7 linked regions of the Homo sapiens genome follow. The protein of the gene in region 1 purifies or fractionates together with the protein of each later gene. This does not show direct contact. Each region holds a gene or a part of one and is shown in the gene's direction. Other genes may lie near its edges.

The links.
Region 2: the proteins of QSOX2 (region 1) and NBEAL2 purify together in Homo sapiens (affinity purification with mass spectrometry; one large-scale study listed by BioGRID and IntAct). This does not show direct contact.
Region 3: the proteins of QSOX2 (region 1) and ORC3 purify together in Homo sapiens (affinity purification with mass spectrometry; one large-scale study listed by BioGRID and IntAct). This does not show direct contact.
Region 4: the proteins of QSOX2 (region 1) and TRDN purify together in Homo sapiens (co-immunoprecipitation; one large-scale study listed by IntAct). This does not show direct contact.
Region 5: the proteins of QSOX2 (region 1) and TUT7 purify together in Homo sapiens (affinity purification with mass spectrometry; one large-scale study listed by BioGRID and IntAct). This does not show direct contact.
Region 6: the proteins of QSOX2 (region 1) and EDEM2 purify together in Homo sapiens (co-immunoprecipitation; one large-scale study listed by IntAct). This does not show direct contact.
Region 7: the proteins of QSOX2 (region 1) and PCDHGB4 purify together in Homo sapiens (co-immunoprecipitation; one large-scale study listed by IntAct). This does not show direct contact.

The regions. Positions count from the first base shown.
Region 1 is NC_000009.12:136,210,890-136,214,980, reverse strand, and holds part of QSOX2 (sulfhydryl oxidase 2 precursor), read left to right. Parts: intron 1-3,528; coding exon 3,529-3,717; intron 3,718-4,091. UniProt on the Homo sapiens protein: Catalyzes the oxidation of sulfhydryl groups in peptide and protein thiols to disulfides with the reduction of oxygen to hydrogen peroxide. May contribute to disulfide bond formation in a variety of secreted proteins.
Region 2 is NC_000003.12:46,992,947-46,997,037, forward strand, and holds part of NBEAL2 (neurobeachin-like protein 2), read left to right. Parts: intron 1-929; exon of another isoform or gene 930-969; coding exon of another isoform or gene 970-990; coding exon 991-1,074; intron 1,075-1,508; coding exon 1,509-1,607; intron 1,608-2,085; coding exon 2,086-2,687; intron 2,688-2,767; coding exon 2,768-2,900; intron 2,901-2,985; coding exon 2,986-3,105; intron 3,106-3,324; coding exon 3,325-3,646; intron 3,647-3,804; coding exon 3,805-3,887; intron 3,888-4,007; coding exon 4,008-4,091. UniProt on the Homo sapiens protein: Probably involved in thrombopoiesis. Plays a role in the development or secretion of alpha-granules, that contain several growth factors important for platelet biogenesis.
Region 3 is NC_000006.12:87,665,284-87,668,283, forward strand, and holds the end of ORC3 (origin recognition complex subunit 3), read left to right. Parts: intron 1-470; coding exon 471-550; intron 551-1,727; coding exon of another isoform or gene 1,728-1,734; coding exon 1,735-1,840; 3' UTR 1,841-2,168; downstream 2,169-3,000. UniProt on the Homo sapiens protein: Component of the origin recognition complex (ORC) that binds origins of replication. DNA-binding is ATP-dependent. The specific DNA sequences that define origins of replication have not been identified yet.
Region 4 is NC_000006.12:123,626,495-123,630,585, reverse strand, and holds part of TRDN (triadin), read left to right. Parts: intron 1-4,091. UniProt on the Homo sapiens protein: Contributes to the regulation of lumenal Ca2+ release via the sarcoplasmic reticulum calcium release channels RYR1 and RYR2, a key step in triggering skeletal and heart muscle contraction.
Region 5 is NC_000009.12:86,347,423-86,351,513, reverse strand, and holds part of TUT7 (terminal uridylyltransferase 7), read left to right. Parts: intron 1-4,091. UniProt on the Homo sapiens protein: Uridylyltransferase that mediates the terminal uridylation of mRNAs with short (less than 25 nucleotides) poly(A) tails, hence facilitating global mRNA decay. Essential for both oocyte maturation and fertility.
Region 6 is NC_000020.11:35,115,917-35,120,007, reverse strand, and holds part of EDEM2 (ER degradation-enhancing alpha-mannosidase-like protein 2 isoform 1 precursor), read left to right. Parts: intron 1-1,288; coding exon 1,289-1,410; intron 1,411-2,800; exon of another isoform or gene 2,801-2,872; intron 2,873-4,074; coding exon 4,075-4,091. Other genes in the region: MMP24-AS1-EDEM2 (ER degradation-enhancing alpha-mannosidase-like protein 2), read left to right, coding at 1,289-1,410, 4,075-4,091. UniProt on the Homo sapiens protein: Involved in the endoplasmic reticulum-associated degradation (ERAD) pathway that targets misfolded glycoproteins for degradation in an N-glycan-dependent manner.
Region 7 is NC_000005.10:141,502,316-141,506,406, forward strand, and holds part of PCDHGB4 (protocadherin gamma-B4 isoform 1 precursor), read left to right. Parts: intron 1-3,077; coding exon 3,078-3,166; intron 3,167-4,091. Other genes in the region: PCDHGA1 (protocadherin gamma-A1 isoform 1 precursor), read left to right, coding at 3,078-3,166; PCDHGA2 (protocadherin gamma-A2 isoform 1 precursor), read left to right, coding at 3,078-3,166; PCDHGA3 (protocadherin gamma-A3 isoform 1 precursor), read left to right, coding at 3,078-3,166; PCDHGB1 (protocadherin gamma-B1 isoform 1 precursor), read left to right, coding at 3,078-3,166; PCDHGA4 (protocadherin gamma-A4 isoform 1 precursor), read left to right, coding at 3,078-3,166; PCDHGB2 (protocadherin gamma-B2 isoform 1 precursor), read left to right, coding at 3,078-3,166; PCDHGA5 (protocadherin gamma-A5 isoform 1 precursor), read left to right, coding at 3,078-3,166; PCDHGB3 (protocadherin gamma-B3 isoform 1 precursor), read left to right, coding at 3,078-3,166; PCDHGA6 (protocadherin gamma-A6 isoform 1 precursor), read left to right, coding at 3,078-3,166; PCDHGA7 (protocadherin gamma-A7 isoform 1 precursor), read left to right, coding at 3,078-3,166; and 11 more. UniProt on the Homo sapiens protein: Potential calcium-dependent cell-adhesion protein. May be involved in the establishment and maintenance of specific neuronal connections in the brain.

The DNA.
Region 1 (4,091 bases):
GCTGCGGGGGCACGAGTTCCCCTTGTCAGAACTCGCAAGGATGTGCATGGCTAACGTGCAGGAAATAAACCATAAAGAAGAAAGAGTGCTGGCTGGGAGTTTCCCTGCAGTGTAAACTCCCTGTTTTTTGCTTTAAAAAGACAGAATAAGTGAAATCTGTTTGGAGAGGTGTTCTCATTATCAGCTGTTGTATAACAAATCACCCCAAAATTTAGCAGCCAGAACCACGGGAACCACGCACGGTTATGAGCTCATGGTTTCTGAGGGCCGGGCATGGCCTCATCTGGGTCCTCTTCTTCAGGATTGGTCAGGCTGCAGTCGGAGTGTCAGCTGGGCCTGGGGGGTCACCCAAGGCCCACCTGGGGAGAGTGGCTTCCCAGCACCCTCATGGGGCAGAGAGCAGGGCCTGCCTCCTTGCACGTGGCTTGCCTAAGGCCCTGAGCTCCATGCTGGCTGTTGACTGCAGGCCACGCTCAGGGCCTCTCCATCGGGCGGCTCACATCATGGCAGCAAGCCTCATCAGCAAGCCAGTGAGAGGGTGCCTATCCGAGGATGATATTCCATCACCTCTGTCAGATTCTGCTTACTAGTCAGTCCCCAGGCCCAGGCCACTCGCAAGGGGAGGACATTACAGGAGGCGTGAGTATAGGTGGTGTGATCTGTGGGGACCGTCGCAGAGGCTGCCCACCACAAGGGGTTAAAACCTATAAAACTTCGAAGTTGGATTTAATAATTTTCAATTACTAGGAAATAGATAAAAACAAATTTTCTGTCCTTCACAGAACACTAAAGTATGTATTGGATTTTTTATCCCCCCTGAATTTTGTTGTGTGTGTGCTTCCCAGTTGAAGCAGTAATTCAGGTTCATTAATGTTTACTTCAAAGCCGAAGTGGAGTCTTGACTCACACAGTTCAACGCTCTTTCCAGTAAGATTCTCAAATTCCTTTACGGTTATTTTTTGCCACATAACAAACTAACCTAAAATGCTGGGGCTTAAAGCAGCCACCACTGTTTGCTTATCATGCTGTGGATCAGCAGTTTGGGCTGGGCTCGGCTGGGCGGTTCTTCTGTGAGTTGCTGCTTGGGCTCACTCGTGTGTGTCTGCCTTCGTCTGGTGGCAGCTGGTCAGTCCAGGGGACCTTGGAATGCCTCGTACTCCTGAACGTGGCTTCCCCACCAAGTAGCACCAGGTTCAGGCAGGACCCCCTGAGAGTCCACCTCAGTGTGGAGTCACATATTATTACTTCTGCCGCATCCTGTTGACCCAGCCTAAATTCGTGGTGAGAGAAATAGATTCCACCTGTTAATGGGAGAGTGTCCCGGGATGGGGGCACTATAGTGGCCTTCTGAAAATCTGTTTTGGCCCTCCTCAAGGTGATATTGGATTACTGCTTCTCGGGGGTCTGGTTGGGGGAGAGGGTGGGTTTTAACCTCAAATCCTTTTCATAATCATACAGAAAAAAAGAGTAGTATGTTTTTGGGGAGAAACCTTGGGAGCTGTCCAAACAGAAATTGAAATCACAGCATCCACACTGCCTGATCTAATGCCCAGCTAGACCATGCAAACCTGATTCCGACCGAATGCCCAGCCAGACCATGTAAATCTGATTCTGAGCTGTGCACAAGGCTCACACCTGTAATCCCAGCACTGGAGGTTGCAGTGAGCCAAGATCATGCCACTGCACTCCAGCCTGGGCAACAGCAAGACTGTCTCAAAAAAAAAAAAAAAAAAAAAACACAACAAAACTGCTTCTGAAGCGTGAGCCTGAGTTAGGAAACCTCACGTTTACACATGGAAAGTTCTGGTGAGGAGATGAGCTGACATGCCATCCCCCTTTCCGTCTGCTCTGATCACACGGGCACACGCAGGCATGAGGAACGGCTCCTTGAAGGCAGTGTGGGTACAGTGTTGGCCAAGGGGAGAAGTTGAGTGACCGGGGTATTTGATTTTAAACTCTTCTAGGACCAGCCCTAGTGTAGTGGAATTGTAAGAGCAGTGTGATGGCAAAGCACACTGCTAGCAAGACCCTCAGCGCTCCTTCCGCCCATCAGCATATTGGAAGCAGCCTCCAGGAGTAGCCTCCTGCCAAGAGAATTGGGTCAGAGGCGACCACGGGATTAAGTCTTGGAAGGTTTTTCTTCTCTTTACTGTATGTTTAAGCCCTATCTAGTAAAATGCCTGTGAAGGCCTCTAATCCTCCCACAGGTAGAGGTTTATGGTTCTTGTCCACTTTAAAGATTAGGGTGGCCCCGCGCCTGCGGTGATGTGGGGAAGAGGAGGGGGATTACGTGGAGATGCAAGGCAGATGTCTGTGGAGCCCTCCCGGCAGGAGAGCAGGGCAGACGGGCCGGGTCACAGGGCCAGCGCCTGCGGTCCCATCTGAGACACCGCCCAGCTGCCCGTGGACACGCTCAAGGCTGAGGAGGAGGTGGTCTGCTCTGCTCTGCTCTCACCTTTCTGGGTGAAATAAACAAGAAGTGTCGGGATTTGGGACCGACCAGGACGCTGAGGTCAGGGCCTGCACGCAGCTGTGTTTTGCAGGGAGCCACGACAAGCGTCAGGCCTGCACTCACGCGGGAAGCTCCCCCAGGGCCTGCTGTCGATGAAGACGGATTCATTCGCGAAAGCATGTCTTTTTTTAATGCTGACATGTAATCTGTTTTAATCTCATGGGTCTCCTATCTGTGCGTTCAAGCTCCTGTGTCAGTCGTCTGAGTGGGGACTGCCGAGCCCCGCCCCATGCTGCCCCCTTGGTTTTCTCAGGGGTTCCCCTTGGTTGCGGTGCTGGCTGCTTCCTGCCACCTGTGGGCAGGTGTTGCTTTCTTGAGATGTGTGTTGTTCATTCACAGTATCTGCGGAAGCGCCCCGGCCTGTCCATGTCTGTTAATACGTTCGGTGGCACAAACTCTGGCTGTGGGTGCACCCGTCCCTGTGCCTGCCCACCTGCTCCACATCCTCACGCCCGTGGCTGGCGGCAGCTTAAGAGTCACTTCCTAAGGCCGTGTCCCCACTTGGGCTGGTGTCCTGCAGGGCTTTCAAACGCGACAGCTGCAGGTTTAGAATGAGCAGAGTCATTGCCCTGGTACCAGCCCCTGAGAGTTGCTTGTAAGGCAAGAGAGACTGCACCCAGCTGGCAAATCCCGGGGAAGAGCGGCACTCCGGGCGTTCTGGCACAGACGGCTGGAAGACTGGTGGGAGGTGGGAGGCGCCCCTGGAAGGGCTCCTTTGGGCCCTGGCGGCCGAGTCCGTGGCTCATCCTCCTGGCACCAGGGCATCTGGGGAGCATGTCCGCCCTCTGGGCTGTCCACAGTCATTGTGTCTCCAGAGCCTGCAGCACCCGTGGGCGTGTTGGACATCTTGGCAGGTGCTGGCTTCTGGTCTGTGCCCACAGCCTGAGGCCCCTGGGGAGACATGAGGTGGCTTCCCGACATGTCAGGAGCGGTTTCCCCCCAGGCTCTCTGGACAAGCGTGGGGTCAGGTGATGCCCACGCACCTGCCGTTGTCAGCAGTGTTTCTTCCCCTGCAGGCTTTGAAGACGACCCCCAGGCTGTGCTGCAGACAATGAGGAGGTACGTTCACACCTTCTTTGGGTGTAAGGAATGTGGTGAGCACTTTGAGGAAATGGCTAAAGAATCCATGGACTCGGTGAAAACCCCAGACCAAGCCATCCTCTGGCTGTGGAAGAAGCATAATATGGTGAACGGCCGCCTGGCAGGTGAGAAGCCCCTGGGCATGGGGGGCTCAGCACGGGCGGAGGGAGGCCCTGGTCCTGGGACAGCAAGGACGGCACGGCTGCCGTGGGGCTTGTCCCTGAGCTTTGCGGCCTCGTGCCACCCACTGTGCTGACGGGATCAGGACTTGGGTGGCTGAGAGCTGCCAGAGCTGCAGCCTTTCCCAGGCTGCTTCTGTCCCCGGCTTTCTAGATGCTTCTCTCACTCCGGGGGCTCTTCGACCCCGTGGAAATGGGTGTGGCTCTTTCTTCCCCCATCGGTACCCACTGGTAGCCCGTTAGACTCTGAAGATGTTTTTGACTCTGGAAAGCTTGGAACGTAATTAATTTTTGATGAGGAATTTTAGTAGTATGGAAAT
Region 2 (4,091 bases), on another chromosome or scaffold:
GGGTCACTGGGTGTCCCCCAGCCCCTGATGATGTGATCCCTGATTCACCTTGCATGTGGGCTGTAGGAGGCTGCAGGGTGTCAGCTGGCAGCTTCACAGCGGGCACCCTTTCTGGGGGCTCAACCTGTGGGCCCCAACCTCCATAGCCCCTACCCTGGCTCTGTCTTCATGAGGTAACCCTATGTGTTCACCGCATGTGGTCATTTTCTTAGAGCTTACACGTCTATTCATCTGCAAAGCAGGCAGGGCAAAGTGACTCCCCTCTGTTTTTACAGATGAGGACACTGAGGCCTGGAGGGGGAGGACTGATGCCTTAGGTCACTTGGGGAGTCAGGCAAAGCTGGGACCAAAGGCCCCATGGAGCCGAATATGACCTAGTCCCTGCTGAGAAACTCTCCAAGCCCTCCCAACCCCTGACCCCCTCAGGGTGGGGCAGGAGAGGCAGCAGCATGCCTCTGGCTGTCAGGTTCAGCCAGGCTGAGCCTCAGTGCCCCCACCTGGATCTAGGGGGAAGGGGCAAGGTGGGACTTAAAGGTCTCGAAGGTTCTTCTGGTTCTAACATCCTGTGATTGATTGTCCCTAAATCTCTGACCCCTGTCAATCACTGTGGGTGATGGGGCACTTGCTGGCCTGTCTGTACTCATGTGTCTAGCTTTAGGGAGACAGGTTGGGGGTAGGGCCCTAACTCCACTAGAGAAAGGGGGACTGGAGGGTGCAGTCAGAGTGTCCACCATTAATCTGTCCCAGTGAGGCCCTTCCCAGCCTTTGTTAGAGTGGGTCTTGCTGAGCTGCTCAGAGAGGGCCCTAGGTCATGATAGGGTCACAGCAGTTGGGGCAAGGAGTAGAAGGCCTGGTGCTCTGACAGAGTTGCTGATCCAGCACATGCCACATGCCTTGGGGTGCTTGGCTCTGCACCTTTTTTACTGCAGGGGGCTGCCAGCTGTGACACCCTGGCCCCTGCCTCTCCTGATGGCCCCTCCCCACCCCAAGGTCCTGGACCAAGACACAGACGCCATTGCAGTCCATGTAGTCAGAGTGCTGACCTGCATCATGAGTGACTCCCCCTCGGCCAAGGTGAGGCTGCTGCACTGCAGCTTTAGTAGGGGTGCGGGGTGGAGTTCAACTGACCATATCCCCAGAACAGGCCTGGCCGGTGGCCATAAGCATCCTGCTCCCTGGAGCAAAGCAGGCGAGCTGGGAGGTGACTGCCCTGCCCTAAAGCTCACTGGGCAGGTGTGGTCGCCAGTCTGTCCTGGGAGCTGCATCTTCTCTGTCAGGGCTGGATGGGGAATGGACACTTGTAGGCCCACCTCCATCTACAGCCTTCTGAGATGTACTCACGTCCCCCCCATCCCTCTGCAGCCCACTGCCCACCAGCACTGTCACCCAGAGGCAGAGCTACGCAAGGGAACCCCAAAACATGATGCCCCTCCAGAGTTTCCAGGGGGTCTGAGTTTGCCCTCCGGCCCATGTATGTGTTCACTTCTTCCCCATACTACCTTACACAGGAGGTGTTTAAGGAGCGCATCGGCTACCCTCACCTGCAGGAGGTTCTGCAGAGCCATGGTCCCCCCACCCATCGGCTGTTGCAAGAGCTGCTCAACATGGTGAGGGAAGGGGCTTGGGACCAGGGTCCCAAAGGCAACCAGAACTGAGTCAGGGTTACCACAGATGGTGAGCTCTCCACCCTGGGGGACCGTATTGACTGCGGCCAGTACATACTGTTACCTGTAGCCTGGCCATGTCTGTTAGTGTCACTGGAATGAGGATTCTGGCCCTGTAGGGGTCCTGGAAGCAACTGCATGTGAGCAAGCCCCAGGATTATCTTAGGAACATGCAGTTAGGGGTTAGGCCAACCCAGGCTGAAAACTAAGGTTGAGGGATTAACAATGCTGAAGGACTCTTAGTAGTAGTGACTGTCATCTGTGCCCCTCTGACTTTCCTGAGCCTCACACACAACCTGTGGGCAGGATGGAGTAGATCATGTTGCTGACTGCTGCCGTAGGCAAGTAAATGGAGCCAGAAAGTCCCACTGTTGACAGGGTGCCACAGCTGACCAGGGACTGTCATTCTCTCCACCCACAGGCTGTGGAGGGTGACCACAGCATGTGCCCACCTCCACCAATCCGCAACGAGCAGCCGGTACTGGTGCTGGCGCAGTGGCTGCCGTCATTGCCCACCGCTGAGCTGCGGCTCTTCCTAGCGCAACGCCTCAGGTGGCTCTGTGACAGCTGCCCTGCCAGCCGTGCCACCTGTGTGCAGGCAGGCCTGGTGGGCTGCCTGTTGGAGACACTCAGCACAGGGCTAGCCCTGGAGGCCCGCTGCCAAGAGCAGCTGCTGGCACTGCTACAAGCACTGGGCCGTGTATCAATAAGGCCCATGGAGCTGCGTCACCTGCTGCGCCCCCGGCCAGGATTGGACTCGGAACCAGGCGGAGCTGAGGCTGGAAAGGCCCGACACGCAGGTGCTGTCATCCGCACATTATCAGGCATGGCCAGGCACCAGGGTCCTGCACGTGCTCTGCGCTACTTTGACCTCACGCCCAGCATGGCGGGCATCATGGTACCCCCTGTACAGCGATGGCCAGGGCCTGGCTTCACCTTTCATGCCTGGCTCTGTCTGCACCCTATGGATACAGCACCTACCCCTGCCCCCACCCGACCACTCCAGCGAAAGCAGCTGTACAGGTGGGTGACTGCCAGGGGCCAGGGACCTCCTGCCAGGGTGAGCAGGAACAAGCAGACATAACTGGCTTGCCTGCCCCCAGCTTCTTTACCAGCAGCGGCTCAGGGTTTGAGGCCTTCTTCACGGCGGCCGGGACCCTGGTGGTGGCTGTGTGCACACGGAAGGAGTATTTGACCATGAGTTTGCCCGAAGTGTCCTTTGCCGACTCTGCCTGGGTGAGACCCCATCCTTCTCATGTGGCCCAGTAGAGAGAGGGGTGCTGAGTCCCAAGTATGGCCTAATGTGAGGCTTCTGTTCTAGCACTGCGTGGCTATCGTCCATGTGCCTGGGCGCCGGCCCTTCAGCCAGAACCTGGTCCATGTCTACAAAGACGGCCATCTGGTCAAGACAGCACCCCTTCGCTGCCCCTCCCTCAGTGAGGTGTGCCAAGCAAGGTTTGGGGAGGCCTTGGGTAGATGGGAGGACTTGGAACACAGTGGGCAGGTGTAGCCTGGAGCCCTTGTGTCCCGTGCTGCCCCACAGGCCTGACTTTAGCCACTGGGGTCCATGCAGCCATGGGGGTCACTGTGAGGAACTGGTTGTAGGCGGAGCCCCAGGTTCTGCTGTGACCTGACCGCTCCCCCAACCCCGGCCCCACAGCCTTTCTCCTCCTGCTGTATCGGCTCCGCTGGATACCGCACAACGACCACCACCACAGGGCTGCCCACACCACCAGTCCCCGCCACCCTGGCCTACACTCACCCCGCCCTCACCCGCTCCCAGTCAGTCCCAGCCTCCACAGGGCTTGGCTGGGGGTCCGGGCTGGTGGCCCCCCTGCAGGAGGGCAGCATCGACTCTACCCTCGCAGGCACCCAGGACACTCGGTGGGGCAGCCCCACATCCCTGGAGGGTGAGCTGGGGGCTGTGGCCATCTTTCACGAAGCCCTGCAGGCGACGGCTCTGAGGACCCTGTGCACCCTGGGTATGCAGCATTCTCCATCTCTGCCACAGCCCCAGGCCAGAAGCTAGGGGTCCGGGGGGAGAAGGCATCTCTGGGGGTCTCTCCTGTGGTCAGGCAGTCTCTGGATGGGGTTTGGCCAGAGGCCTAGCAAGGTCTGAAGCCCCCTGCCCACCTCCCAGGGCCCAATGAGACGGCACCCTTCAAGCCTGAGGGGGAGCTGCATGAGCTCAGCACCAGGCTGCTCCTCCATTACTCACCTCAGGTATTTGGGGGCCCCAGGGGAGTGGTTGGCTCGACTGTGCTACTTCCCCGGCTCCCACACTCTGCCTGCCACCCCCTCCTCCCTCTGACCCTGGCTGCCTGCCCATTCCCCTATCCCTAGGCTTGTAAGAACAACATCTGCCTGGACCTGTCCCCCAGTCATGGGCTTGATGGGCGCCTGACGGGCCACAGAGTGGAGACCTGG
Region 3 (3,000 bases), on another chromosome or scaffold:
AAGGAATACTTGGCAAGGCAATAAACAACTGTTGTTATTCTTTAAAATAAACAACTATTCTTTCTGTCTTCAGAATAGTATTACAAAGATCTTAACTCTATTAAAGGCCTTACAGATGTCTTGTCACCATTAAAAAATATCCATAATTGGCTGCTTCCAAGAAAAATAGATATTTTCCTGGAGTAAGATTAGTAGAGGAAACAGGGCTTTCTTGTTCTTTTACCTTTGACTAGCTTCGTTTCTTTTCTCTGCATACTCTTAGTTCTCTGAAACAAGATTATTCAGGAACCATTACTTTATCTTTTAATATATAAGTGGTTTAAAGTGATCATCAGTGTAGTTTTGACAATCTTAAATTTGATATAATGAAGAATATGTGCCAGCTATCAACAGCCATTAAAAGAAGTATAGTAAAAGATGTTTGGCAACTGTAGACATTTTTATTTTCTTCTGTCTTGTCTATTCAAAAGGCTTTTGCAACAGTTGTGACAGCTGCTGAAAAAATGGATGCAAATTCTGCAACCTCAGAAGAAATGAATGAAATTATCCAGTATCCTTTTAAAACCATTTCTACAATGTCCAACTACACATAAAATATAAGTTTATAATTTCTCCAGGTCTACACTAGATATTTATAAAGGCGTACTCCAAACAACCGTATTACTTGTTAATATTAACCATATGGTGCTAGAATAACTGAAATTTCTGAATCTTTATTTTGAATTTAATCCAAAATGAGACCAAACCTAAAACTTTTGGTATCAAATTTATATCAAGATTATATTTTAAAATTTACCAAAAATGAAACTGCCATTATTGAATTCTCTTTTTTTGGTTTTTGTTTTTTTTGTTTGTTTGTTTGTTTTTGAGACGGAGTCTCGTCTATCGCCCAAGCTGGAGTGCAGTAGTGCGATCTTGGCTGACTGCAACGTCCGCCTCCTGGGTTCAAGCAATTCTCCTGCCTCAGCCTCCCAAGTAGCTGGGATTACAGGTGCCTGCCACCAAGCCCAGCTAATTTTTGTATTTTTAGTAGAGACGGGGTTTCACCATGTTGGCCAGGCTGGTCTCGAACTCCTGACCTTGTGATCCGCCCGCCTTGGCCTCCCAAAGTGCTAGGATTATAGGTGTGAGCCACCTCACCCGGCCTAATTCTTTTTTTTTTTTTTTTTTTTGAGACAGAGTTTTGCTATTGTTGCCCAAGCTGGAGTGCAGTGGCACGATCTCGGCTCACCGCAACCTCCACCTCCCGGGTTCAAGCGATTCTCCTGCCTCAGCTTCCCAAATAGCTGGGATTACAGGCGCCTGCCACCATGCCTGGCTAATTTTTGTATTTTTAGGGGAGATGGGATTTCACCATGTTGGCCAGGCTGGTCTTGAACTCCTGACCTTAGGTGATCTGCCTGCCTCGGCCTCCCAAAGTGCTGGGATTACAGGTGTGAGCCACTGACCTGGTCTGAATTCTCTATTTTTCTAATGTACGTTTAGAAGTGGGGGCGGGGAGCAATTTCCATACTATGTAGAACATTAGATTTAGGAAGCATTAAGTACTTTTCCATTTATGTTTTATTGATAGTGGATTCTAATTAATGTTTTCCAGTAACAGTTATAGTTTAATTTAGGAGTTTATATCTGAACTATCTACTTCATTTTACCAACTAGTATTTTAACATTGAGATTTTAATCCCTTTTTGTCAAAAATACAGCACGGCCAGTTTCCTTAATTAAAGCCTCCAGTGCTCGGTTTATTAGAGCTGTTTCTGAACTAGAACTTTTAGGATTTATAAAACCTACCAAACAGAAGACTGACCATGTGGCAAGACTAACATGGGGAGGCTGCTAGAAAGCAAATAAGCAAAGCCAGAACTATCACATTTAGCTTAAGAGAAAAAGGTGACCAGTCATATTTACATATATTAGAGGAGCCTGTTTTGTTGAGAAGATAAATGTGTAACCCCCATTGATGTTTAACCAGAAAAGTACATTGCTAACCCCAAACAGGCATGTATCAAAACACCTGTGGAGTACTTTAGACTCCAACAAATAATAATGTAACTAAAACTGCTCACACATTTTACTGTACTTTCCAAAGTCATTACTAAATTGTGAGTAAATCATTCTTGAACTTAGAGTATGTAAATGTAATAAATTCCGTTATCCAGGAGTATAAATTATTTGCAGTTGCTTTAGCAATCCTCATTCCTCCTCTCCCAATTCCCTGCATTGGCATTCCTCACTTTAGTGTAGTAGGCAGTAAGTAACATGAATATCTTACAGGTTGTTTCTCCTGGTGACTACATAGGTTCCAAAACTGTCTCTGCCTCTCCATTTCCTGTAGTCTTACAACTTTAAAGAAAAAAAAAAAAGGCCAGGCGTGGTGGCTCACACCTGTAATCCCAGCACTTTGAGAGGCCAAGGCGGGTGGATCACAAGGGCAGGAGATCGAGACCATCCTGGCCAACAAGGTGAAACCCCATCTCTCCTAAGAAATACAAAAAATTAGCCAGGTGTGGTGGCACATGCCTGTAGTCCCAGCTACTCGGGAGCCTGAGGCAGGGGAATTGCTCGAACCCGGGAGGCGGAGGTTGCAGTGAACTGAGATCGGCCACTGCACTCCAGCCTGGGTGACAGAGTGAGACTCCGTGTCAAAAAAAAAAGTCCCAAACTGTTTGGCTTTATTTAGGCAGTAAATATTCTACTTCGGGATGACCTGTCATGGAGCCAGTAAGGCCTCTACAAATCACATCCCAAACAAATACAACTCAGATGAGCAAAGTAAGGCCCAGATGAAATGACATCTCGATCTCTTCTATGGCAGAAACTCAGCAAGACATAATGAAACAAAGATAGCTAAAGTTCATTATTTAATGCTCTACTCCCAAGAGAATTATGGGACTTTAAGGCTACTCACTAACATACAAAATTACCATGCAGATATGGGGGGAAAGTCCATGTCCAGAAAAAACTTGGTTTGCAAACCTTAGAACTATGTCATTGCAGGAT
Region 4 (4,091 bases), on another chromosome or scaffold:
GTTATCATTATGACTGTAATTTAAAATTCATGCTACTTTTACAATGCAAAAATGAATTGAGGCTATTCAGTTATTATACTAAAGGCTTAGGAATCCATAGAGACTTAAGGCCTCCAATACTGTTGGCATTAATTTTTAATCAGTTAACAATATTTAATATGAGAGAAACATAAAACAGTGCAACTAAGCAATTTTAAAATCATCTACATTGACCTTTGTGTTGAATATATCAATTTGAAAAGAAAATGGTTAAGATTTTCCAGTAAAGCTTTTGGTTTTATAGTTATGCTTAGTTGGAGCTTAAAGATAGTATTAAAACATTATTCTTTTCTTCTTTCAAACAAAAAGAAACCCGTTGGGGACATGTTTAATGTATTTTTAAAAAATACATATTATCTAATGTAACATATTTAAAAAGAACAAAGCAGGGGAAAAATCTTCATCTGGCAACTATGCATTAACATCATACAATAATGTCGACTTTACGGAGTTCAGGCTCCATTTTACTTAAAGTTCTAGGAAGATTTGTCAAGGTTAAGTTTTTGCTGTCTCCAGTTCCCACCTGCCCTGGATAATACGAATGACAGGCTTGGTTTTTTACAGAGAATACTTATTTGATTGTCATGTAAATATATATTACCCCTAGTGAGGGTTATGCAGAGACAGATGAACTTCCTGGTCCAAACAGATAGTAATTTTTATCTTCAAAGGAAACCAAAAAGAGTATCCTTGGCAAATGTGCAATGAATAAAGTCTTGCTCTGCTCTATACAAGTTAATGCTCTCTAAACATCAAACATCTCCACATCTCCATGCCTGAAGTGAAGCTGTCAAAGACACACAGAATTTACAATTGTGAGAGATTCTTTGGTATGTAAATGAGCTGTTTCCTCATAAACTGCAGACTCTATCTCACTTACAATGTACTTTAAATATTACATTTAAATATATGTGGTTTAGATATTTTCTAATTTGTTATCTGTGCCAGAAGCTAGGGCATGTGGTTTTCACCCAAACAAGTTAAAGACATGATATTTTGACCTATAAGAACAAAGATAATTTAAATGGAGCAACCTGTTCTTTATAGGGGAAACTTGGTTTCATTTAGACAGCATGAAGCTGGAACTCATTGTGACAAACCAGTTTTATCTTTGCTACGCATTTGCTGCATCATTCTCCCCTCCCTGACACAGGTTACTGAAGTGTTGAGAAAAACAAAAGAAGGAAAAACTCTTAGTATTTCAAACTTAGTTTTAATATGGTCTAGGGCATTAGTGAGCTCGTGGATGTGAGAGATTCAGTTTCCATTTATACAGACGTTCAAAATACATATTTAGCAAACTTTCCTTGGAAAATTGTCTGTTGCCTTTGAAAATAAAATTATCATGTGATTAGGGGAATTTTCTGTTTGAGGAAGACATTTAATATAATGTCAAGACAAAAATAAGAGATATGAAGTGGCACTTCTCTGACATTCACTGCTGGAGCTATTATTTTTGCCCATGGTTATTCTGATTTAACCTATATATTATTGACTAGGGGAAAAAGCGTACTGTAAAATCTGAAAGTTACTACAGTATAGTAAAATGCCAAGTTTGTGAATTTAAATCTGCAGAAATATTAGGCATTGCATTTAGAAAAAGGCAAGTTACCTCCATCTGAAATATAACAAAATTTTAGATTCTATGGTATTAATTATCATCCTAGATGTAGATTTATGAAGCAGTATGTCATGCCAGAGGTTTGGTTTTATTCAATATTTTAATACCTATTACGTACCAAATTGAATGCCTGACAATGTGGACACAAAAATGAATGATAAAAGGTCCCTGCTACATTGCAAAACAAAAAGAAAAGAGCAAAAAATAACAGTGAGAATAAAGACTGGACAGATTATAAAACATTTGATTCCAATTTGAATTGCAGCCATGTCTCTTTTTATTGCACTTTGCTTTATTGCATGCCACAGATATTGCATTTTTCAAAGAAAATGAATAAAGCTATCACCACCATTTTTCCAACAGCATGCGTTCATTTCCTGTCTCTGTGTCACATTTTGGTAATTCTCACAGTATTTCAAATGTTTTCGTTATTGGTATGTCTGTTTCGGTGATCTGTGACCATTGTTCTTTGATATCAATATTGTAATTGTTTTAGGTCACCACAAGCTGCCCCTATATAAGATGGTGAATTTCATCAATAAATATGTGTGTTCTGACTGCTCCAACAACTAGACATTCCCACTATCTCTCCTTCTCCTCAGGCTTTTCTGTTCCCCGAGACACAACAATATTGAGATTAGGAAAATTAATAACCTACAACAGCCTCTAAGAATTCAAGTGAAAGGAAGAGTTGCATATCTTTACTTTCAATCAAAAGCTGAAAATAATTAAGCTTACTGAGGAAGGCATGCCAAAAGCCAAGATAGGCTGAAAGCTAGGCCTCTTGCACCAAACAGCCAAGTTGTGAATGCAAAGGAAAAGTTCTTGAAGGAAATTAAAAGTGCTACTGAACACATGAATGATAAGAAAGTGAAACAAACTTATTGCTGATGTGGAGAAAGTTTTAGTGGTCTGGATAGAAGATCCAACCAGCCAGAATTCTCTTTCAGCCAAAGCCTAATCCAGACCAAGGCCCTAAATCTCTTCAATTCTGTGAAGATGTGGAGAGGTAAGGAAGCTGCAGAAGAAAAGTTGGAAGCTAGCAGAGGTTGGTTCATGAGGTTTAAGAAAAGAAGCCATCTCCACAACATAAAAGTGCAAGGTGGAAGCAGCAAGGATTGATGTAGAAGCTGCAGCAAGTTATCCAGAAGATCTAGCTAAGATCATTGATGAAGGTGGCTACGCTAAACAACACATTTTCAATGTAGACTAAACAGTCCTCTATTAGAAGAAGATGCCATCCAGGACTTTCAGAGCTAGATAGGAGAAGTCAATGCCTGGCTCCAAAGCTTCAAAGTTTAGGCTGACTCTTGTTAGGGAATAATGCAGCTGGTGACTTCAAGTTGAAGCCAATGCTGGTTTACCATTATGACAATTCCAGGGCTCTAAAGAATTACAATAAATTTACTTTGCCTGTGCTCTATCAATGAGATAATAAAGCCTGCATGACAGCACATCTGTTTACAACATAGTTTACTGAATATTTTAAGCCCACTGTTGAGATTTACTACTCAAAAAAAAAATTCTTCCAAAGTATTTCTGCTTATTGACAATGCACCTGGTCACCCAAGAGCTCTGATGGTGATATACAAAAAGATTAATGTTGTTTTCGTGCCTAACAGAAGATCATTTTTGCAGCTCATGGCTCAAGAAGTAATTTTGATTTTCAAGACATTTTTTAAGAAATACATTTTGTGGGCCAGGCTCGGTGGCTCATGCCTATAATCCCAGCAATTTGGAGGCCAAGGTGGGTGGATCACCTGAGGTCAGGAGTTCAAGACCAGCCTGGCCAATGTGGTGAAACCCTGCCTGTACTAAAAATACAAAAAATCAGCTGGGCGTGGTGGCAGGCACCTGTAATCCCAGTTACTTGGGAGGCTGAGGCAGGAGAATTACTTGAACCCGGGTGGTGGAGGCTGCAGTGAGCCGAGATCGTGCCACTGCACTCCAGCCTGGGGAACAAGAGCAAAACTCTGTCTCAAAAAATAAAATAAAATAAAATAAAATAAAATAATAAAAAATTAAAAAAAACATTTTATAAGGCTATAGGTGACATAGGGAGAAATACCTCTTATGGATCCAAGCAAACTATATTGACAACTTTCTCAAGAATTCACCATTCTAGATGCCATTAAAAAATATAATTTTTACATTACAAATTTTTTTATTTTTATTGTTATTATTATACTTTAAGTTCTAGGGTACATGGGGAATTGAACAATAAAAAATATTTTTGATTCATGGCAGGAGGTCAAAATATCACCATTATGTAAAAAGTTGATTCCAACCCTCATGATGACTTTGAGGGGCTCAAGACATCAGTGGAGGAAGCAACTGCAGATGCAGTGGAAACAGCAAGAGATCTAGAATTAGAAGTGGAAGCTGAAGATGCTGTAATCTCATGATTAAACTTGAATGGATGAAGAGTGAC
Region 5 (4,091 bases), about 50 Mb from region 1:
TGCTACTTGATTTTTTTTCTTTTTTCACAGATACTTCTAGTTGTCAGATCTGTTTATTTATATTTTATTTTATTTTTTGAGACGGAGTCTCGCTCTGTCACCCAGGCTGGAGTACAGTGGCGCGATCTTGGCTCACTGCAACCTCTGCCTCCTGGGTTCAAGCGATTCTCCTGTCTCATCCCCCAAAGTAGCTGGGACTACAGGCACATGCCACCACATCAGGCTAATTTTTGTATTTTTAATAGAGACAGGGTTTCACCATGTTGGCCTGACTGGTCTCAAACTCCTAACCTCCAGTGATCCACCCACCTTGGCCTCCCAAAGTGCTGGGATTACAGGCGTGAGCCACCACATTCAGCCTGATTTTTTTTTTTTTTTTTTGAGACAGTCTCACTGTGTCACCCAGGCTGGAGGTGCAGTGATGTGACCTCCTCTCACTGTGGCCTCTGCCTCCCAGGATCAAGCGGTTCTCATGTCTCAGCCTCCCAAGTAGCTGGGACTACAGGTGCACACCACCATGCCCAGCTAATTTTTCTGTTTTTTAATAGAGATAGGGTTTCTCCCTGTTGGCCAGGCTGGTCTTGAACTCCTGACCTCAAGTGATCGACCTGCCTCTGCTTCCCAAAGTGCTGGGATTACAGGCGTGAACTACCGCGCCTGGCCCTCAGATATTTTTAAATTTGAAAATTAAGAGTATATATTAATATCAAGTAGCAGAAACAGAATGAAGTGTTATAAAGGCGTTAAGTAGTAGGGAGACATAAAACTTAAATCTTTAAGCTAGAAATAGCTTGAGGAATTATCTGATGCAGTACTCTGTTGTAATATATCAAAAATGGAATCACAGTTTTACAAATCAGGCAGCTGCAGCTCAGAGAGGTTAAATTTCCACAGACCTGTTTATGCAGCGCGGTAAATGAGGAAGTAGAACTAAAATTGGGGACTCTGCTACTCTGGCCATTAACTCAGCCTCGCTGGACCTGAAATCCTGACGGCGGAGCCGAATATTTCTTGATAATTTCTGGGCTTTTGATTTGTGTTTTTCTTTATTAAAAATTGTGTATATTTAAGTGTTTCTGTATTACTGTCCAGGTGGGATGTGGGTATTTAATTTTGTTACCTATAGTCTTGTAGAAGTTGATCTTGAAAACCATTTCATTTTATTATTATTATTCTCTTTTTTGAGATGGAGTCTCGCTCTGTAGCCCAGGCTGGAGTGCAGTGGTGCGATCTTGGTTCACTGCAACCTCCATCTCCCAGGTTCAAGCAATTCTCTTGCCTCAGCCTCCTGAGTGGCTGGGACTACAGGCACGTGCCACCACACCTAGCTAATTTTTGTATTTTTAGTAGAGTTGGGGTTTTAGCATGTTGGCCAGGGGTAGTCTCGATACCCTGACCTCATGATCTGCCTGCCTTGACGTCCCAAAGTGTTGGGATTACAGGTGTGAGCCACTGCACCCGGCTGAAAAGCATTTTAAAAAGAAAGTTTATAGATCAAAAATTTGCAACTAGACATTAAAAGGAACTGTTGGCTGACCACAAAAACTTTTATATGTTTTCTTATTTTATGTGTATTCTTATAAAAGCAACTAAAGAAGTTGCTTTTAAGTGTATTTGAATAGGAAATGCATTTTGCTATTTTTTTATTGGAGGTAATTCAAAAGTTTGCATGTTTTTGCTGTATGACATACAGGTATATGCTTTCACAGTTATTAAGTAAAGAATTATTCAGTTTCTATCCCTTGAAAATCTTCATATAGGAAGCATTAAGCTTCGGTATAACATTATTTAGTTTAGAGAGATTCAACTGAAAGTATAAACTAAAAAGGATCTCATTAAAGAGATCGAAATTTCTTTATCAAAATTGTGTCTTAATAAGGAAGGGTATTATTCAACAATGTGAGAAGATATAATGGAAATTATGGTGGAGTTGCTTTTTTCCCCCCCACATACGGTACTACCTTCTGTTTTTTTCAGCTCTACATTACTGCCCCTACTTTAGCCTTCAAATGTCCTAGATTGCCAGTTTAATGTATTTGGGACATTGCCATTAATGATCTTAGCTGGAAAGCATCCACTCAAATACACATGTCCTTTGTGAACCATATGCAAATAAAATATGGGAAACTTGGAATGCCGAATATAGAGAACTCTTATTACAATAAATCTGAGGTAAGCCAGGTAGTCTTCCTCCAAGTAATTATGAGAATTTTTCTTTTTTCTTTTTTTTTTTTGAGATGGAGTTTCACTCTTGTCGCCCAGGCTGGAGTGCAATGGCATGATCTCGGTTCACTGCAACCTCTGCCTCCCGAGTTCAAGCAATTCTCCTGCCTCAGCCTCCCGAGTAGCTGGGATTACAGGTGCCTGCCACCACGCCCAGCTAATTTTTGTATTTTTAGTAGAGACAGGGTTTCACCATGTTGGCCAGGATGGTCTCGAACTCCCGACCTCAGGTGATCCACCTGCCTCGGCCTCCCAAAATGCTGGGATTACAGGCATGAGCTGCCACGCCTGGCCAAGAATTTTTCATCAGTACCTAGCTTTACCCTCCAAGAGTCCCTCCGGTGAGATTTTGACAGTTTTTACCATGCATGCCTGTGAAAGTAGGTTTAGAAGGTTATATTGCCTTTCAGTGCTAGTCCACTCTAGATGTGAATGGGTATGTTCCAAGAAGGGATTTTAGTAATTTCTTTCCAGTTTTTATGTTGTTAGTTAGAAGGCTGAATTTCAGGATTTCATCCTTTTTTTGTTTGTTTGTTTTTTAGACAGAGTCTCACTCTGTCACCCAGGCTGGAGTGCAATGGCGCAATCATGACTCACCACAGCCTCACCTCCTGGGCTTAAGCAGTCCTTCCGTCTCAGCCTCCTGAGTAGCTGGGACCACAGGAGTGAGTCATCTTGCTGGCTGATTTTTTTCATTTTTGCTAGAGATGACATCTCACTATGTTGTCCAGGCTGGTCTTGAACTTCTGAGCTCAAGCAGTCCTCCCACCTTACCCTCCCAAAGTGCTGGGAATTACAGGCATGACCCACTGCACCTGGCCCCATCCATATTTTAATCTATATTTTCAATCCCTTTACTTTGATTTAGCCATGTGTTCTTGGAGAAGTTATTCTCTTGGATTCGCATTGTCCCCATCTGTACAATGGGGACAGTATTAGCAGGATTGCTGTAGGGATTAAATAAGGCAGTACATATAAAGTGCTTTACATCTGTTGCATAATAAGATACACCATCATGGTAGCTGCCATTATCTGACAGAATTTCTGCAGCCATCCACTTCTGTATAAAAGCAGTAGGAGTTGATTGAGGTCTTTGGAGGAAGAGAGAAGTTACTCTTTCTAGAAAATGACAGCAAATATGGTTATATGGAGAAACCTTTGTGACCAGAAGAGAGGAAGAGTTTAAAAAAGGAATTCGGTTCCCTATCACTTACTGGCTTGTGAACTAATAGGGGCTTTTCTAAAGGGTATTGCAGTATTATTTTAAATTTATAGAGTTTTTGCCTAAGAAACCTGTAATAAACACTGAAGTTAGATGCAGTTTTTTTGATAATGTTTATAATGATAAGCAAACTAAATGAGAATGGATACATCTCTAAGTAAAAGAAGTGCTTATCTGAAAAAAAAAAATTGTTCAGACCAGAAATACTGGCCTTAAAAGATTATGATAATTTAATTGGGAGTCGGGGGAGTATTAAAAAGGAAATATTAAGGTAGCGCAAGGTAGCCTGATTTTCTGTTGAAATGACAACTTACCTTTTAGTATTTTATTTGTTCAGTGTATTTTGATTGATTTTTTAAAACTACTTTTCCAACACTTTAATTTTTTTTAATTTTTTAATTTTCTTATATTGTGGAAGGTGTTTGCAGAATTTTGAGATAGTCATCTCAGGTAGTTTTAGCACAATGCTTGCTGCTTATCCTTTAGCGCTCTCAGCAAGCTTTTTATAAAATTGGAGGTCCTATATTTCCTTTTCAGCCTGCCAGTTCATTGTAATTGCCATACTAGTAGTAATGAGTTCCTCTGAAAACTTGATGGAGGAATTACTTCATGTAGGGCTTTTCAGTAGGTTTATGTTTCCAAGCAC
Region 6 (4,091 bases), on another chromosome or scaffold:
AAGCCCAGGAGGAAACAGGACAGGAGAAGGTCAGGGGGAGATGATGGTATAGAAAGGAGACAGGGGTTCTTCTGTCTCTTAGAAAAGATGGATGAAGTAGAAAAACATACTGAGCTGAGGCCACCCTTGAAGTCAACTCTACAACAGTTCTTCAGGTATTTGAAAGCAATAAACACATTTTTTTTGGATTTCCTTATCTCTAGAATAAATATTCTCATCTGGACCCACTCCTGTTGGCTAATATTCATCTTAAGGTAGAGCTCATGTCTTAACATCAAGTTCCAGTTGTGGCATAGAATTGGGCAAGACAAAACATCACTTTTTCTGGCCACAGTGAACTGATGACTACGTCTTTGTTAGATTGACGGTTTGGTGGTTTATTTTATTTTATTTTTTTAATTTTTATTTTTTGAGATAAGGTCTCACTCTTGTCATCCAGGCTGGAGTGCCGCAGTGGCTTAATCATGGCTCACTGCAGCCTCAAACTCCTGGGCTCAAGTGATCCTCCTACCTCAGCCTCCTGAGTAGCTAGGACTACAGGTGCATGCCACACCCAGCTAATCATTTTTAATTTTTGTAGAGACAAGATCTCGCCATGTTGCCCAGGCTGGTCTCAAACTCCTGGGTTCAAACGATCCTCTCACCTTGGCCTCCCAAAGTGCTGGGATTACAGGCATGAGCCACCCACCATGCCTGGCCTGCTCTTGGATATCTCAGCCTTTTCTTTTGGTCCATCCTATCTTAGAACGAGCCTTATGATGCCAAGCTCTTACTCTTCTTTTGAGTTTTAGAATTAGGTTAGACTCTGAGTGACAGGAAAAAAAATAGTAGCTTAATTAGGATAGAAATGTATTTCTCTCTCATGTTCTGGGCTTATATGGCTCGCCATGGTGTCCTTAATCCCACCTAGCTGTTAGAATAGTTAGTGTTGGCAGCCAGGCAGCCTGTGCTTAGCTAAAGTTAGGAATCCTGCTACTAAGGAGGAAGCGGGGAACAGATATTGGGAATTAGGCAACAACCTCCGCCACCTTCTCTATGCCAGAACCTGGCCACCTTTCTCTCCCTTGTGGTGGAAGTCACTGGTCAGCCTTAATGCTGGTCTCCACTGAGCTTCAAGCTTTGGGTATACTGGCTCTGAAACTCAGCACTGGGTGAGGTATCCTGTGTTCCTGCTAGTTGGGGCCTTATGGACAAGATATGGAGGGGAGTAGTCCCTCACGGCCCTAAGAGGCCCCAGGCCATCTCTGTGCAGCCACTGAGTGAGGAGGGTCTGCTTTGGACTTTGCAGAACTTATTGAAAGCGCAATGTACCTCTACCGTGCCACGGGGGATCCCACCCTCCTAGAACTCGGAAGAGATGCTGTGGAATCCATTGAAAAAATCAGCAAGGTGGAGTGCGGATTTGCAACAGTAAGTGTTTGCATGGCCCCAAGAACTGGGAAGAGTCTCCCCTTGCTGCTAAAAAGCCTCTTTAAGGGTAGAGCTTTGGGAGTTCTGACATATCAGCACTAGAAGGGACCTTGGAGATATACATAATGCTCATATTTTACAGATGGGGAGACCAAAGAACAGAGAAGCTAAGTGCCTTGCTAAAGATCTCACAGCTAGTAGAGGTAGAGCTAGAATTAGTTCCTTGGGATCTTGACCCCGGCCCTTGGCATTCCTCCCACAGTGGAGATCTTTGATCTGTTTGAATAGGTGACTTTGAAAAGGTGAGTTTAGCGAAAAGTTTTGTGAGACACTAAAATAGATTTTAAGGGGAATCCAGAGTCCCATAGCCCTATATTCAAACCTGGGACTCCTTAACAAAGCAGTCCTGCTTAGTCTCACAGATATTTCTTGAATGTCTTTCACATGCCAGGCACTCTGCTAGGCCCAAGGGTTACAGCAGTGGCCTTGCTCTCATGGAGCTTACATTTTAATGAGAAAAAAACCATGAATGTGTATCTGGTAGACAGAAGGCCAGTGTGGCTGGAGCGGAGCAAGCAAGGAGAAAAGTGGGAAGAGATAAGGTCCCAGAGGTAGGCAGGGGCTAGATCATGTAGGGTTTTGTGTAAGCCACAGGAAAGAGTTTGGGTTTTTTTTTCTACTTGGAATGTGAACCCTTGGTAGGATTTACAGCAGAGCAGTGACATGATCTGATTTGTATTTTAGAAAGATCGCTTTGGCTGCTTTGTGAAGAATAGATTGAAAGGGTCAAAGGTGAGAGCCATCTCACATCCATGCAGGAACCAAGCAGGCAAGATATAAATATGAAAGTAGAAGAAAATAGTCTGGAAGAAAATCCCCTGAAAAGCCTACAGTGTTGGGGTATGGAATTCAAAACAACAACAAAACACTTATTTTGCAAAAGTTTGTAATGTGATTATATTCTATAAGTAAAATATAGATATGTGTAGGGGAAGAGAGAAGACCTACATGTGGAAGGGAAAAAATAAACCCCTGATATGATTTGGTTTCTAATATGCTGTATTGTGTGAAAAACCAAAATGATAAGCCCACTGGGGCCTTCCTAGGAATGCTGGGCTCATTTCCATGAACATGAAGCCCTTTGGAGGTCTTCCATGGTGAATGATGGGAACAGGGGTCTGACCTTTCTCAAACAGGGCAAGGAAATAATCATCTTGATACATCAAGACCATATTTGAGTCATATTTTTAAATGTAAGATAGAGTCCACTGAGAATGTTTTGTTTAGAAGTATTACTAATTCTGAGAAGCTAAAATAAATGTTTGTAGCAAGTAATCTTAGTCATCCATGCCTGAAAACTCAGTTGAAATTCTCTAAATAAGACTCCTTACTAAAACAATGTCAATAGTTTTCATCAACAGCAGTTGAACCTAGTAAGTGTCGATACTTTGGGTCTGAGTGGAGAAAAAAAGACCCCTTATTAGTTGCTTACAAAAACTTGGTAATTGGCCAAGCGCAGTGGCTCAGGCTTGTAATCCCGGCACTTTGGGAGGCCAAGGCAGGCGGATCACGAGGTCAGGAGTTCAAGACCAGCCTGACCAACATGGTGAAACCCTGTCTCTACTAAAAATACAAAAAAAATTACCTGGGTGTGGTGGCATGTGCCTGTAGTCCCAGCTACTCTGGAGGCTGAGGCAGGAGAATTGCTTGAACCCGGGAGGCAGAGGTTGCAGTGAGCCGAGACCATGCCATTGCACTCCAGCCTGGGCAACAGAGTGAAACTCCATCTCTAAAAAAAAAAAAACTTGGTAATCATCTGAATGCCCTTCCAAGGAGGATTAGCCAAGTAAATGGTGATCCATTTTCACGATGGAATACTCTGCCATCATTAAAAGGGACGATTAGCTCTATGTTTATAGTCACAAAAAGTTGGGATAAAGGGGATAGGAGATTGTCATGTCATAGAGCAAGGTTAGCGGAGACCTTTCTGGTGAGGAAGCATTTGAGCAGAGACCTGAAGGAAGGGAGGGAACAAGCTATGAGAAAAACTGGAGGCGGAGTGCTCCAGGCTGAAAGAACCACAGATGCAAAGAGCCCGAAGCAGGAGGGTGCTGTGCTAGCTCAGGACAGAAAGGCAGCAGCTGGAGCTCTTAGAGTGGTAAGAGGTGAGGGCAGGAAGGGAGCAGGGGCCAGGTCATGACTTGCATTTTTATCCTGCATGAAATGGAGGGCTCACAGAAAGTTGTGAGTAGAGAATTGACAGGAAGACTTATGTTATACAGATACTGTAGGAGCTTGGTGTGTGTCTCACGCCTGTTATCCTGGCACTTTGGGAGGCCAAGGTAGGAGGAATTGCTTGAGCCCAGGGATTTGAGACCAGCCTGGGCAACATGGTGTGAGACCCTGTCCCTATTTTTTAAAATAGTGTGTGTATATAAACTGCAGGGCTAAGATTGGAAGCTGGGAGCCCATTTGGAAGCTTATGTGATAATCCAGGTGAGAGATGATGGTGGCTTGGGAAAGAGTGAAGTTCTGAAAAGTTCAGTGATTTGCTCACAGGCCCTCAGCTGCTTTGTGGCAGAACAGGCCTTCTTAAGGGATTGCCTGACCCTTACTACTAAATTGTGATGGTGTTCCAGCTTGCTTCCTTCTCCCACATGTCAGATCAAAGATCTGCGAGA
Region 7 (4,091 bases), on another chromosome or scaffold:
TGGAGCCAGCTCCCAGTCTTTTTATTTTTTTAATGACATGGATATTTTTAAAGAGTCCAGGCCAGTTGTACTTTAAAATGTCCCCGAACCTGGATTTGCTGGCTATTCTCTGATGGTTAGATTCAGATTACACACCTTGGTAGGAATACTTCCCGCAGCATCACACTGGGACTCATCTAACGTCGGCCTGTCCCACTATCAGTGATGCCGAGTTTGTTCGTGTGGTAAAAACAGTGTCCCAGATCTCTCCATTATAAAAATATATTTTTATAAAGATATTTTAAAATATTTGTGAAAATATAAGTAATCTGTGGATGATACTTTGAGATAGGCAGCAACCCTTCATGCAATTTTAGTATTCCCTGATGATCCTTGCCTGTATCTGTTTTTACATCAGTGATTACAAAGCGGTGATGTTCTGTCATTCCTTCTACATGTATTTGCTGGTATTCTTCTGAAAATTACCTGGATGATTTCTTCAGATTTAAATTCACTGTCTTTTCCTTGGGGAAGCCTGGACTGGCTGAGCTGCCTAACCCTGACTCTCTGTCTTTTTTTTTTTTTTGACAGGGAGTCTAGCTCTGTTGCCAGGCTGGAGTGCAGTGGCAACCTTCACCTCCTGGGTTCAAGCGATTCTCCTGCCTCAGCCTCCCAAGTAGCTGGGATTACAGGCGTGTGCCACCATGCCCGGTTAATTTTTTTTTTTTAATATCTATTTTAGTTGAGACAGGGTTTCACCATGTTGGTCAGAATGGTCTCGATCTCCTGACCTCGTGGTCTGCCCGCCCCTGCCTCTCTTCATACCCTCTGGTAGCCCCTGACACAGCCCATGGCAAGTATCACAATTGCAATTACTCTATTGTGTAATTATTTAAAATCAGCCTCTCAGTGCCCACCATGAGCACCGTAAAGATGGACAGTTTCTATCATACTCACAGCCACAACCCCAGCACCTGGCTCTGTGTCTGGTACATAGAAATTGCTCAAGAAAGAATTGTTGGAGGGGCGCGGTGGCTCACGCCTGTAATTCCAGCACTTTGGGAAGCGGAGGCAGGTGGATCATGAGGTCAGGAGTTCGAAACCAACCTGGCCAATATGGTGAAACCCCATCTCTACTAAAAATACAAAAATTCGCTGGGCATGGTGGCATGTGTGCACTTGTCGTCCCAGCTGCTCAAGAGGCTGAGGCAGGAGAATCACTTGAACCTGGGAGGCAGAGGTTGCAGTGAGCCGAGATCGCGCCACTGTACTCCAGCCTGGGTGACAGAGCGAGACTCCAGCTCAAAAAAAAAAAAAAAAGAAAAAAGAAAAGAAATAATTATTGAATCAATGGAAACAGAATTACAACTCTTCCCACTTTTGGGAAGGAGAATTGAGATTCCTGCTTTCCCCTTCAACCCTAGCTTTATGTTTGTTGTGATGGTATAGAGGTCACACATGGCAGCCTTGTGTCTGTTCTTAGGCTGAGTTCATCTACTTAGGGACGGGGAATCCCAGATTGGGCAAAACCAAAAGCAGGGACAGACCTTGGAAAAATTGTAAAGCAGTTCTTGGTTGTGCTCACCCACCATGACAAAATATGCACACACACAACGCAACACACACACAGACATTTTCATGCCTTCAAGGCCTACCCTACAGCCTTTCCCATGGTGCCAAACCCTTCTTCTTACCTTACAGTCACTTAACTGTCTCTGCTGGTCTCTTCCCACTCATTTAGGCAACAAATATTTATTGAAAAACTTCTCTGAGCCAGATGGTGCCAAACAGTTACCTAAAGGGCAGACTGTGTGTGTGCCAGGGCTGTTTCCCGCCAACACTCCCCTGCAAATTGAAATAATTTCATCCTTGGAAATTCAAAAAAATCATGAAAATTGTCACTGTGGGAAAATTCCAAGTAGAGCTGAACCTTCTAAGAAGCAGAGAGTTCTTCTTATGGTTTAGTATTTTTTTAAATTATGAATCATTTCATGTTTTTTCAACACTCGGAGTTTCTAAAAGTCTCACTTAGGTCCAAGTGCTAGGCTTTGTGCTAGGTGCTTCAGTAGGAAGCAGGTGGAGTCGCTGCCTCACAGAAGCCAGTGTGGTGGAGGAACAGACAGGCACTACAACAGCTGCAGTGTGACTAGTGCCATGTGGGGCAGCCGCTGGGATGGGAGTACAGTGGAGGCACCTGCCCAGTCTGAGTGGATCTCCTCTGATATATTTTATTCGTGTCATCATGGCAAATGTTGGGGGACTGGCATTCTAGGGAACACCATCTGCCCAGGATTCACAGCAAGAGGGAACTTGAGGGATAGGAAAGTGCACCTTGGAAAAGGTTTGATGATAGAGTGTTTGAGGGCGGGGGGTGGGGGTTCTTGTAAAATAGGAGGGGCAGGTTCTTCTATGGCCGTGGATTTTACTCTGAGGGCTTAGGAAGCCATTGAATTTTAGAAATTTCTTCTCCCTGCTCCAGGGTCTCTTGGGGCCTCCTACATCTCCCCCTAGGTACCTCCTAGGTCCCCACTTTTTCTCTAGCTCTGGAACATTCTCTTCCATTTCCCACCTTCACAGTCCTCTGGAGAAGGTCTGATCTCCCTCACTATGACAGGAAGCCAGGCTCTCTCATGGTGGGTGGGGGAATGCACTATGTTCAATGCATTGGACCAGCCTGGCCAACATGGTGAAACCCCGTCTGTACTAAAAATACAAAAATTAGCCTGGCACAGTGGCAGGTGCCTGTCATCCCAGCTACTTGGGAGACTGAGGCAGGAGAATCGCTTGAACCCAGGAGGTGGATGTTGCAATGAGCCAAGATCGCGCCACTGCACTCCAGCCTGGATGACAGAGTAAGACCCTGTCTAAAACAAAAAGAAAAAAGCATCGGAGGCAGCAAAGAGCTGGTTTGAGGGACTGACTTGTGGGATTCTGGCTTCTGAAGGATTGTAGAAGTGCCTCCTACCTTGCTGAGAGAAACAGGTCTTGGGCATGGGGTAGGGTTAGGGTACTAGGTTTGGGAGCCCTGGGAGAGGACAGGAGGGGCATGAGCTGTGCCGGCCTGGGAGTCTGTGCTCACCATCCTACTCTCTCCCCAGCTCCCAAAATGGCGATGACACCGGCACCTGGCCCAACAACCAGTTTGACACAGAGATGCTGCAAGCCATGATCTTGGCGTCCGCCAGTGGTAAGTGGTGTCAGTGTGTGTATGGAAGAGTGGGAGACCTGGGGTTCTGGGGTGCATCTCACAGCCACCATGCCCACGGACTGGATGTCAAACCTGTGTAGTTTCTCCAGATCTTTCGGCAGGTCTGAAAGGACCCACAATTCCAAACATAAAGCCTGGAATTGTGGCTAAGGAACAGCAGAGGGGTTGGGGGTCCTGGGATGCCTGGAGGAGAGCGAACAAGGAAAAGACTCATGGAGGGAATAGTGGTTACAAGTCTAGCTCTGGAATGGGACAGTGTAGCTCAGGTCCTAGCTCTGCTACTATCCTTGGGACTTGGATCGACTTGCTCAATCTCTCTAAACCTCAGTTTCCTCAGCCTAGAAAGTGGGGACAGGGACCCCAAAGGGTTGTTGTAGAGATTAAATGAGATGATACCACAAAGCATAGAGTTCTGGGCCTGGCGCTTGGAAGCCCTCAAGCAATGAAAGTGGGTGTAGAAATCCCCAGCCGAGAGAACACCTCCTCTTTATGCGAGGCTCCTCTTTTGCTGCCCCTAACTCCAGAGTAGGATTCTGGTTTTCCCATAAGGTTGACTAAGGGCTTCCTTTGTAATAGAGATTCGGCTAGTGGTGGTTGTCCCTGAAGAGTCACTAGGGCCCAGAGCAGGAGAAGAAGAATATCATTTGTCCTTAAGAGCACAGCCTAAGCTGGGCGTGGTGGCTCACGCCTGTAATCCCAGCACTTTGGGAAGCTGAGGCAGGAGGATCATGAGGTCAGGAGTTCGAAACCGGCCTGGCCAACATAGTGAAACCCTGTCTCTACTAAAAATACAAAAATTAGCTGGGCATGGTGGTGCGTGCCTGTAGTCCCAGCTACTTGGGAGGCTGAGGCAGGAGAATCGCTTGAACCTGGGAGGTGGCTGTGGTGAGCAGAAAATCGCACC